Linked DNA regions of Homo sapiens: region 2 is linked to region 1. The links come from fine-mapping of genetic effects on gene expression. Tissue or cell type: whole blood. Region 1 holds a variant in brackets; the other region holds the start of a gene. All regions are shown on one strand. Distances are from middle to middle. Region 1 overlaps SUGP2 (SURP and G-patch domain containing 2). Region 2 holds the start of SLC25A42 (solute carrier family 25 member 42).

The links. PIP is the estimated chance that this variant, and not a neighbour inherited with it, causes the effect.
Region 2: SLC25A42 starts here. The variant in region 1 is fine-mapped to the expression of SLC25A42 in whole blood (TOPMed, PIP 0.96).

Annotation. Positions count from the first base shown.
Region 1 is chr19:19,014,914-19,020,289 of GRCh38, forward strand. SUGP2 (SURP and G-patch domain containing 2) reads right to left here. Exons shown (of 11, transcript NM_001017392.5): 4 at 4,196-4,316. Among named protein-coding and RNA genes, the nearest start is that of SUGP2, 16 kb to the right of the region's middle. The variant G/A (reference allele first, on the strand shown) is at 3,334.
Region 2 is chr19:19,060,808-19,066,183 of GRCh38, forward strand. SLC25A42 (solute carrier family 25 member 42) reads left to right here and starts at 3,187. Exons shown (of 8, transcript NM_178526.5): 1 at 3,187-3,308. LOC124904655 (a long non-coding RNA gene) reads right to left here and starts at 2,718. Exons shown (of 3, transcript XR_007067160.1): 1 at 2,383-2,718; 2 at 1,237-1,344; 3 at 19-343. RefSeq lists silencers at 2,659-2,828, 3,089-3,358.

The sequences.
Region 1 (5,376 bases):
GAGGTAAGCCAGGTGCGGTGGCTCATGCCTGTAATTCCAGCGCTTTGGGAGGCCAAGGCAGGAGGATCATGAGGTCAGGAGATTGAGACCATCCTGGCTAACATGGTGAAATCCCGTCTCTACTAAAAATACAAAAAAATTAGCCGGGTGTGGTGGCAGGTGCCTGTAGTCCCAGCTACTAGGGAGGCTGAGGCAGGAGAATGGTGTGAACCCGGGAGGCAGAGCTTGCAGCGAGCCAAGATCCCGCCACTGCACTCCAGCCTGGGGGACAGAGCGAGACTCTGTCTCAAAAAATAAATAAATAAATAAATAAATAAATAAATAATAAAAAGAGATACAGAGGTAGCCGTGAGAAGTAGTTTGAAGAACTAAGTGACTGCCTTCAAGGAGTGGAACATGGAAACAGGTCACAGCAGAAACATTTGGCTTTTCATTATGCGTTCAATTGACTGTTTTGTTAAATACAACATACAAGGAGCATTTTGACTTAAGAATTCAAACATGCACACCAGAAACCTAAGTTTAGCAGTTTCTTTACTTATTGCTGTGCTTTTGTATCACACTCTTTCCTCTTACAGTCTCTTGGTAATTCCTTCTCTTTTTTTTGAGACAGAGTCATGCTCCGTTGTACCCAGGCTGGAGTGCAGTGGTGCGATCTTGGCTCACTGCAACCTCTGCCTCCCGGGTTCAAGTGATTCTTGTGCCTCGGTCTCCCAAGTAGCTGGGATTACAGGCGCCTGTCACCATGCCCAGCTAATTTTTTGTATTTTTATTAGAGACACGGTTTCACTATGTTGGCCAGGCTGGTCTCGAACTCCCAACCTCAAGTCATCTGTCCCCCTCGGTCTCCCAAAGTGTTGGGATTACAGGCGTGAGCCACTGCACCCAGCCAGGTAATTCCTTGTGAAGGAGTTTTTGGATGATAAAGTCTCTGGGACCAACTCCTAAATCTTTCCTTCTTCAGGATCTATTCTATCAGCCAACCGCTGAGATTTTTATTTCAATCTATTTTTCATTTCCAAGATCCTTAATAGAATCGTTTTCATAGCAACCAGTGTCTGTTTCATGGATACAATATACTCTTATTACCTGAGACTATTCATTGCACATACATATTTATAGACTACACCTCCTCTTTCTCATAGTGACTCTGTCTTCTAGGGTGTCAGGAGTTGGTTGAGTTTGGTGATGCTCTTTCATGATACTGGTTTACCTCAAATATCAGTTCTTAGTTTGATGCTTATTTCTGGGACTACAGGCACCCGCCACCAGGCCCGGCTAATTTTTTTTTGTATTTTTAGTAGAGACAGGGTTTCACCGTGTTCGCCAGGATGGTCTCGATCTCCTGATCTCGTGATCCACCCACCTTATAGGTGTGAGCCACCATGCCCGGCCGCTTATTTCTGATTTTGTACCCTGCCCTGCCCCCTATCCAAACATACCCCTGACTCTGGCTTCCGTCTGCTGCCCCTGGTTATCAGTGGTCATGAGACCACTGGGCCATGTGCAGGGGTCATGGGGCAGAGGCACCAGCCCCCAGGCCTCTCAGGGCCTCCTATTCCTCCAGCCTAATCACCTTATCAACCACCTGTAAAGTGCCCCTGGGCCTTCTAAGTCTGGATGCCTTCTTACCAAGAGGGTCGGTATCTGCTTGCATCTGTCAATCTGACAATCCTTCAACATGCACACTGGTTCAGACCACAGACCCTGGATTTGAATCTCAACTCTGCCTCTTACTAGTTGTGGATCCTCAAGGCAAGAGGGCTCTTGGAGCCTCAAAGTTTCTTGTCTGTAAAATAAGCATAGCAAGAGACCTGCCTCCCAACGTTGTTTATGAGGATTCAACCAGCTAGTGCTTAAATCAGTAATGTGCTTAGAACAGTACCAACTGCACAGAAGGCACAAGTGTTTATTAAATAAAAAGTATTCAATAAATGATGCTGGGACAATTAGGTTATTTGGGAATTTTTAACTTTTAAGTTACATGCCTACCTCATTCAATACATGAAAATAATCCAAACTCAAGAATTTTGTAAAAATAAAACCACAATAAGCTCCAACCTTCCCCTTGGTAAATCATGGTGGGTAGGACCAAAGACATGGAAATGTATGCCTTTCAAGCATCTTTAGTAATTACAACAGCAAGCATAGCAAGTCCAGTATGGGTACAATCTGACTACCAAAAAGGGCACACTCAGGAGGTCAAGGCTGCAGTGGGCTGTGATAGCACCCCTGCATTGCAGCCTGGGCAACAGAGTGAGATCCTGTCACTAACAAAAAACAGAAAACAAAAGAGGGCACAGCACACCTACAGAGTAGCAGTGAGAAAGTCAATTAGTACAGATAACCTATGGAGAGTAATCTAATGATAAACATCAATGGTCTCCATCAGGGGCAGCTCTGCCTGCCATGGGACACCAGGCAGTGTCTGGATGTATTCTGGGTTGTTACTAGTGAGACAGAAGGTCCTACTAACATCAAACGGATAGAGGCCACAGATGCTGCTAAACAGCCTGCAATGTCCAGGACAGCTCCAACCCTAATACAGAATGATCCAGCCTCAGTGCTGCAGCTGAGGCTGGGCGCGGTGGCTCACGCCTGTAATCCCAGCACTTTGGGAGGCCAAGGCAGGCGGATCGCATGATTTCAGGAGTTCAAGACCACCCTGGGCAACATGGTAAAACCCCGTCTCTACTAAAATACAAAAAATTAGCTGGGTGTGGTGGCGGGCACCTGTAATCCCAGTTACTTGGGAGGCTGAGGCACAAGAATTGCTTGAACCTGGGAAACAGAGGTTGTAGTGAGCCGAGATCACACCACTATACTCCAGCCTGGCGACAGAGCAAGATTCCGTTAACAAATAATAATAATAAAAATAAAAAGTGCTGCAGCTGAGAAACTGACATAAATCAAAAGCCTCTAACATGAGCTTTAACCCAGCAGTTTCACGCCCAGATATCATAATAAACTGCCAGAAAGGTAGGCAGAAATACAATCAAAGCACTGATCATCACTTTTTTTTTTTTTTTTTAAGAGAAATGGTGTCTCAGCCCAGCACAGTGGCTTACGCCTGTAATCCCAGCACTTTGGGAGGCCAAGGCAGGTGGGTCACCTGAGGTCAGGAGTTCGAGACCAACCTGGCCAACATGGTGAAACCCCATCTCTACTAAAAATACACAGATTTGAGACCTTCCACCCTCACACCCCACAAGCATTATTTGTTGCCACTGGAGCCCTGTGGACAGAACTGGCCATTGCCTCTTTGCTGAGGTGACCTGCCTCATGTCGTGCACCTGTAATCCCAGCTACTTGGGAGGCTGAGGCACGAGAATC[G/A]CTTGAACTCAGGAGACGGAGGTTGCAGTAAGCCAAGATTGCGCCACTGTACTCCAGCCTGGGTGACAGAGCAAGACTCTTTCTCTGGCTTGTTCTTTACTTTCTCTAATAAGAAAGTACTATATTTAGGACGCAAACTGTAATTTTAATAAGTTGTTCGGCCGGGCGCGGTGGCTCACGCCTGTAATCCCAGCACTTTGGGAGGCTGAGGCAGGTGGATCATGAGGTCAGGAGATCGAGACCATCCTGGCTAACACTATGAAACCCCATCTCTACTAAAAACACAAAAAATTAGCCAGGCGTGGTGGTGGGCTCCTGTAGTCCCAGCTACTCGGGAGGCTGAGGCAGGACAAAGGCATGAACCCGGGAGGCGGAGGTTGCGGTGAGCCGAGATAGCGCCACTGCACTCCAGCCTGGGCGACAGAGCAAGGCTCCGTCTCAAAAAAAAAAAAAAAAAAAAAAGTTGTTCTATTTACATAAAGAGGCAATTAAGCAAAAGACAGTTTAACAAATATTAGCAATAAATTGCAAACAACTGCAATGATGTATTACTAATCTTACTACCCTTACTCTGTATTCTCTGCATGCACATCTCACTGCATCCTTAAAACAGCCCAGCAGGGACTTGGAGCTGTAGTCACAGGTGAGAGAAGGCCACCCACCCAGCTGGCCTACCACTGGTCTGCAGCAGAGCTGGGGCTTGCTGAACCCACATAAATCTGAGCCACCCTCATGCTCTTCTCACTGGAGAACACCACTTGCTCAAGTATCTCACCCTCTGCTCTCAATACCATCAGAGTGACCCAAATTTTGCCATATACTCCATGAGAGGGATTCACAGCGTGGACATTTAAAGACCTACCAGTAAGCAGGGTCCTCTTTGAGAAGAGTTCTCTCTTTGGGAGACAGGCTGCCTTCGATGACACGTTTCACAAGCTGGTCGATGGTGCCCACTACCCTGTGATCTGCTCGCTGGGGGACAGCTGGAACACACAGAACAGCTTCTCTGAGAAATATGCTGAATGTGGGCTCTGAGAAGACGAGGATAGTTGAGTAGTTGGGGGCTTAGTGCTGAACCCAAGCAGGCATCAACAACCGAAATCCTCATTCACAAGACACCAGCATTGAAAAGAGGAAAACAACCAATATGGAAAATCTCCTCCTAAAAAATGTAACAGTATAACCACTAGGAGAGAAACAGTCACAGCTTTCAATGACTGGACAGAGCAATTTATGTATATGCTCTAGAAAAAGAAAGATATATAGCAATTTGATATCATTTTTCACATATTACTTAATAATTTGAGTGTTCATAACATTAAAGTGGAAAATATAAATATCTAGTATAAAATATACAAAAATGTATCTAGGTTATGGTTCTCAATATAAAGGTGGGAATAAAAAATATAAATATGGATACATAGAAAGAAGACTATAAGGAAATATGTTAGGAAATATGTTAACAGAGGTTATAGGGGGTAGAATTATCAGGAATTTCATTTTCCTTATGCTTTAAGAACTTAAAAAAAAAACTTGTGTTTTGTAATCAGAAAATATATGTATCAATTCACAAAAAATTTTCTCCAATTAAAAAAAAAAAAGAAAAAAAAAAAAGGTCAGCCGGGCACGGTGGCTCACACCTGTAATCCTAGCACTTTGGGAGGCTGAGCGGGGTGGATTGCCTGAGCTCAGGAGTTCAAGACCACACTGGGCAACATGGTGAAACTCCGTCTCTGCTAAAATACAAAAAAAAAAAAAAAAAAAAAAATTAGCCAGGCATGGTGGGATAGAGCGAGACTCCATCACAAAAAAAAATAAATAAATAAATAAATAAAAAGGTCAGTGATCCCAAATTACATGTTCACAGAAAATATCTGCTGAATGTATAAGAAACAAATTTTGGCCAGGCACAGTGGCTCACGCCTGTAATCCCAGCACTTTGGAAGGCCAAGGCAGGCGGATCACGAGGTCAGGAGATCGAGACCAGCCTGGCTAACACGATGAAACTCCATTTCTACTAAAAAAATACAAAAAAATTAGCTG
Region 2 (5,376 bases), 46 kb after region 1:
AGCCAGGATGGTCTTGATCTCCTGACCTCGTGATCCGCCCGCCTCGGCCTCCCAAAGTGCTAGGATTACAGGCGTGAGCCACCGCACCCGGCCCTGGCCTTCTCTTAAGTAGCTTTTGCTGTCCTCCTTGATGACATCGAGACCTGGGCTGAGGTGGAGCCTGCTGCAAGGATGGTGCGAGTGTGTTCAGGCCACGCCTCTGCTACTGTAGGCTCTTGGTGAAGTGGCCTGACTTATCTGAGCCTTGGGAGGTGAATGAGGCCACTCTGACCCCAGCCAGGCTTGGTTGTTGTCACTGCTGTGTTCAGGATGTCTCCCTCCAGCCAGGGATGGGCTTGGGCTCCTGGGAAAGGAACACAGATTTTTTCTGTTGTGAACATACATCTCCCAGAGGCTGGACTAAACCTCATTTTCCAGATAGGAAATAGACTCATGGGCATTTGAGGGGCTGCGGTGGGATGAGACCACAGCTTGGCCTGCCTCCAGGCCCCTCATCTTTTTCCAAAGCTGTTAACCTGACCTTGGGCAAAAGGCCTTTGGGCCTCAGGTGATTAGGCCTGGACGCTGTGCCAGGGCCTGGCTCACAGATGATTCCTGGGATCCCCAAGAGGTAGAGGAGACTGGAGGGCGAAGAGGCAGTGTCCTGTCCAGGGCTGGCCAGCCAAAGCAGAAGAGCCGAGATCCTGGGCACCCTAGCTGGGCTTACATGAGTGCCCATGGTGGGGGTGTCCATTGCTATTGCCAAGGTGCTTTGCCTGCCATTGCTGGAAGGCGGTAGGGAGGTTGGCTGGCGCCAGCCTGCTAAAGAACGAGCAGAAGCTAGAGAGGCAGCCCCAGGCTGGGCCAGAGCCTGACCTTTGCCTTAGTTGGCTCTGTCCCTGGAGGCACTGTGGGACCTTCCAGGAGCTTTGTTACCTCCCCCTCCCAGGGCCTGGCAGGTGGGCACTGGGAGTGGGCGCTCCTCGGCGTAGATATCTCCCTCTTGGTGTGGCAAGCCACGCCCATAGTTGGTCTGTGTCCATGAAGCGCTATTTACAGAGAGGGAAACAGGCCCAGAGAAGAACAATATATCATCACCAGCCTTCCATGAGTGCTTACTGTGGACGAAGCCATTGTAAGTGTTTTGCTTCCATTTCATCAATGCTCACATCAGCCCTAGGAGACAGCCGGGAAACTGAAGTGGGGAGCTTGTGTTATTTGCTGAAGGTCCTGTGGCTGTTACTGGCCATTACTTACGTTAAAAAGAGCAGGGATTCAAACTCAGCCCTGGGTCCTTCCACCAAGGAATATTCTCCACCATAGGCTCAGTTTTCTTATCTGCTAAGTGGGCACTGTCACGTCCACCTGGAAGTGAGGTGGGGAGATGGTATTGGAGAAAGCCCAGTGGGGACCTGGCACCCAATTGATGTTCAACTGACCTCAGCTTCCCCCTCTTCTCTGGAGGGCAGAATGGAGGCCAGATCCTGGAAGTTGCCAGGAAGCAAACCACAGGTGGGAGGTATGGGAGAGGAGGTCCAGGTAGGCATATCGTGAGAATATCAGGAGTTTGATGATGGCCTTGGGCTAGTGATTTCCCGTCACATCCTCCCCATTTGAAACTTGTGGATCACACACTTAGCAGGGGCTTGTGCAGCCCTGAAATGTGAGCCCTTTCTAAGGTTGGTTTCAGCCTTGCTCCCTCCCAGGATTCCCTGGTTCTGAACTTGATCTCCACCAACCCTGGCCAGCACCTAGAGGAAATAAGAGCTGGTATCTGGAAACATTTGTAGCCCTCTCCATCCTGAAGATGAAGGGTGAGTCATAGAACAGAGTGGCTTCGGGGGAGGTGCCGATGACACAGCCATGCCTGGGATGGCAGGTGTCTCCCTAAACTGCCGGCATTTTTCTGCACTTCACAGAGGAGCTGAGGCTCACAGGCCGCACATGACCTGCTCAGGGTCAAATGCTTTCACCAGATAATTAAAATGAGAGCTGAGTTGTAAATTTTCCCAGGGAAGCAACCCCAGAGAGGAAAGATCAAGGCATAGGAATCATTTTCCCCCCTCTTTTCCAAATGAAACAGCTGAGGCTCACAAGGGCTTTTGCCCAAGGTTGTGTGGTGGGCCAGTGATTGGACAAGGATTCAAACCCAGGTCTCTGAGGCCCCCAGTGGCTCTTCTCTGACACACTCTTTCCAAAAAGCAGGCTGCTCTAGATTCATTCTCTGGTTTAGCAACCAGAGAATGCTGTGTAACCTTGGGCAAGGAGCTTGACCTCTCTGTGCTCTGGTTTCTGTAAAAGGAGCCAGTGGTCTCTCTGACCTCATGGGATTGTGGTTAAGATTCAGTTAATTCAAAAAAAGACTTGGCAGGGAGAAGGCCCAACAGGGATGTCACTGGATACCGTGGCGGGGAAAGCTGGGACGCAGAGAGGTCAGACACTCAGAAAACCACGCAGCGCGTTTCAGTAGGATTCCGCCCCTTATTTCCATGTCTTCACACCACCTCGAGATGGAGAGGGCAGTTCAGAGTGACCTCCAGCGAATCTGCCCTCTCCGTGTCGTCTGCAGGGGATTAGTGGGGAGTAAGGGGATAGAGAATTATCCAGGAGTCCTTCAGCCTTGATGGTCCAAGTTCACATCCGCTTCTGTGCTAGGTGGCCAGAGGGCGGGCTCTACACGAGAGCCTCAGGGGACCCTGCGCCAGGCGTCCGAGGCCACGTCGGGTTGCCGCGCTCCGGGTCGGACTGCACCTTGAACGCTCCAGCCCTCCCCTGGGGGCGTACCGCCCACGGCCGCTGCGACTGGCCGCGGGGCCTGCCAGTCTTCGGCTTTGCGGCCAATCCCGGTCTCCCCCCAAGCTACGCCCTCCGTTCCTCTCGCCTCTGCCCCACCGGTAGCGCCAGTTTCTTCGTAGCCCCGCCCCTGGCCCCCAGCGATTGGCCGACAGTTCTGCCTGTTTTCTGCCAAGATTCCAATCCTCGCCTGCCTCCAGGCCCTCGCCTCCCAGCGCCTAGCACCCTGAGGGACCACTCAGGCACCCCAGGCCTCTCCCAATAGCCCCACCTCTGCCAATCAGCGATTGGCTTTAGGGGCTGCCCATCTGCTTCATACTCGCCAATCACTGTCGCTTCCAGCGCTGACTGGCCAGGGAGCAGCCAATCGGGGCGTGGCGTGGACCCCTCCCGTGGCGCGCTCTGGGGGTGCGCGAGGCGGGGCCGTGGCGGCTGGAGGTAGCGGCGGCGGCGACGCGTCCGGGCCGGTGAGGGGGCGCGGGGGGCGCCGGGGGGGCCCAAGCGTCAGCGGCCCGCGCCTGTCGGGCTGAACTGAGGTGAGGCACGGGTCCTGTCATGGATCCCGGGGCGAGGGGCGGATGAGGCGGGGCATGACAGTAGCGTCGCGAGGGCAGGAAGAGGTTAAAGACCCCCCCCAACCCCACACTCCACGTCTACTGCCCCCTGGGGGCTACTGCATCCAGGTTTGAGCCCGTCACCCGCAGTCCACGCACGCCTGACACCACGTCCCTTTTCGTTGACATCCCCCATACACTTTAGACTGTCCTTGCTGACATCTCCCACACCCCTGGGGCCTTGTCCCCGGCGCCCCGCACAGCTGGGTCTGACATCCCCCTCACACACCTGACACCGCGCCCCCACTCACGAACACCCGCCCCCACTCACGAACACCCCCCACATCACCTGAGTCTGTCCTTGTCGATGACACCCCCACACCCACACCTGAGCCTGTGACTCCTAACTCATGGCCTCGCAACTCACACCTGGACCTAGTCCCGTCCCCCACTGCCTTTCCTCATATCCAGGTATCTGCTCGCTACTCTCGTGCCCACTCCCCCAGCAACCTGTGTCTCTCTTCTCAGGGACCTTCCCCCTGGCACCTGCCCTCTGCCCTGGCAGCCCCACACCTCTGTCTCCCCCTTTTCTCTCTCCCACCTTGGGCTTTCTTCCACGTGCACCTGTGTTCGCACACCCTCTGTAATAATCCCCCCGAATCCCCCAGGTCCTCCAATAGTCCCCCAAGCCTTGGTATCTCAGGATCGCTGCACCCTCCCCTCCCCAAACAAAAGCTTACCCCAGTGTTCATTTCTAACAGTGCTTGACAGTCTATAAAGTGATTTCCGGACCTTAGAATAATCCCATCTGTCAGACCAAACCGGAATCATCTCCATTTTACCAGCCACAGACCTAAACCACTTGAATGCTAGAGGCAGAGCCTATTCTACCCTGGGCATCGCTGACCCTCTGCTGTGGACCCACCGCGTTTGGGCCCATCTGTTATGTTTATCTCAGAGGGATTGGCAGGAGTCGTGACTTTGACTGGGTCCGGAAAGGCTTAGCTGGAAGGGACGGCCCCTCTGCCAAGCGTGTGTCTCGGAGTCCTGGGGCAGGCTGGCGGTGGAGACGCTGCCGGAGGAGGGGGGCTCATCATCTTGGGTGCCTCCTGCAGGATGCCGGAGAGGGGGTTGCCGGGGCCGGGGCTCCCAGCTCTTGCAGACCCGGGACCCCTCTCCGACACTCCCTGGGCCCTTGAAGCCGATAAAGAGTAAGGAAACACTCTTTAGAGTGAGGCAAACTAATGTTTCAGCTGTTTAAAGCTAACCTGCAAAACGAGCCTGGGTGGTGCTAGGAATGATTCTTCTGGAATTTTTTAGTTCCCTTGAGTCTGATTTGCAAGCATGCAGCATAGAAGGAGGACAGTGGCTTTGTTGTTGAAAAGCAATAACGTGCCATTTCCTGTAAGGCTCCTGGAGCGTTTCTTACCCCCTCCCACCGCTCCCTGCAAAGACGGTACCAGAATGTTTCAGAGGGTCATGTCACCTTCAGCTTCTCCTGTGGAAACTGAAGCCATTTGGGTTTTCTGTCCAACTTCAATAGGAGTCATTTAAAACATATATGGGCATGTATGTATATATGTATGTATATGTGTGTGTGTTGTACACATATGTACATGTACCTATAATATTCATATGTTTATATACATATTTTATATATACATATTTCGTGTGTGTTATATATGTACATGTGTATAAACTTTGGCAAGATCATTGAGTATATAGTTTTTGGGTTTTTTTTGAGACGGAGTCTTGCTCTGTTGCCCAGGCTGGAGTGCAGTGGTGTGATCTCGGCTCACGGCAACCTCTGCCTCCTGGGTTCATGCAGTTCTCCTACCTCAGCCTCCTGAGTAGCTGGGATTACAGGCATGTGCCACCACACCCAGCTAATTTTTGTATTTTTAATAGAAACGGGGTTTCACCATGTTGGCTAGGCTGGTCTCGCACTCCTGACCCCAAGTGATCTGCTCGCCTCAGCCTCCCAAGATGCTGGGATTACAGGCGTGAGCCACCACACCCGGCCTATTATATAGTTAAAAAGAAAAAATCA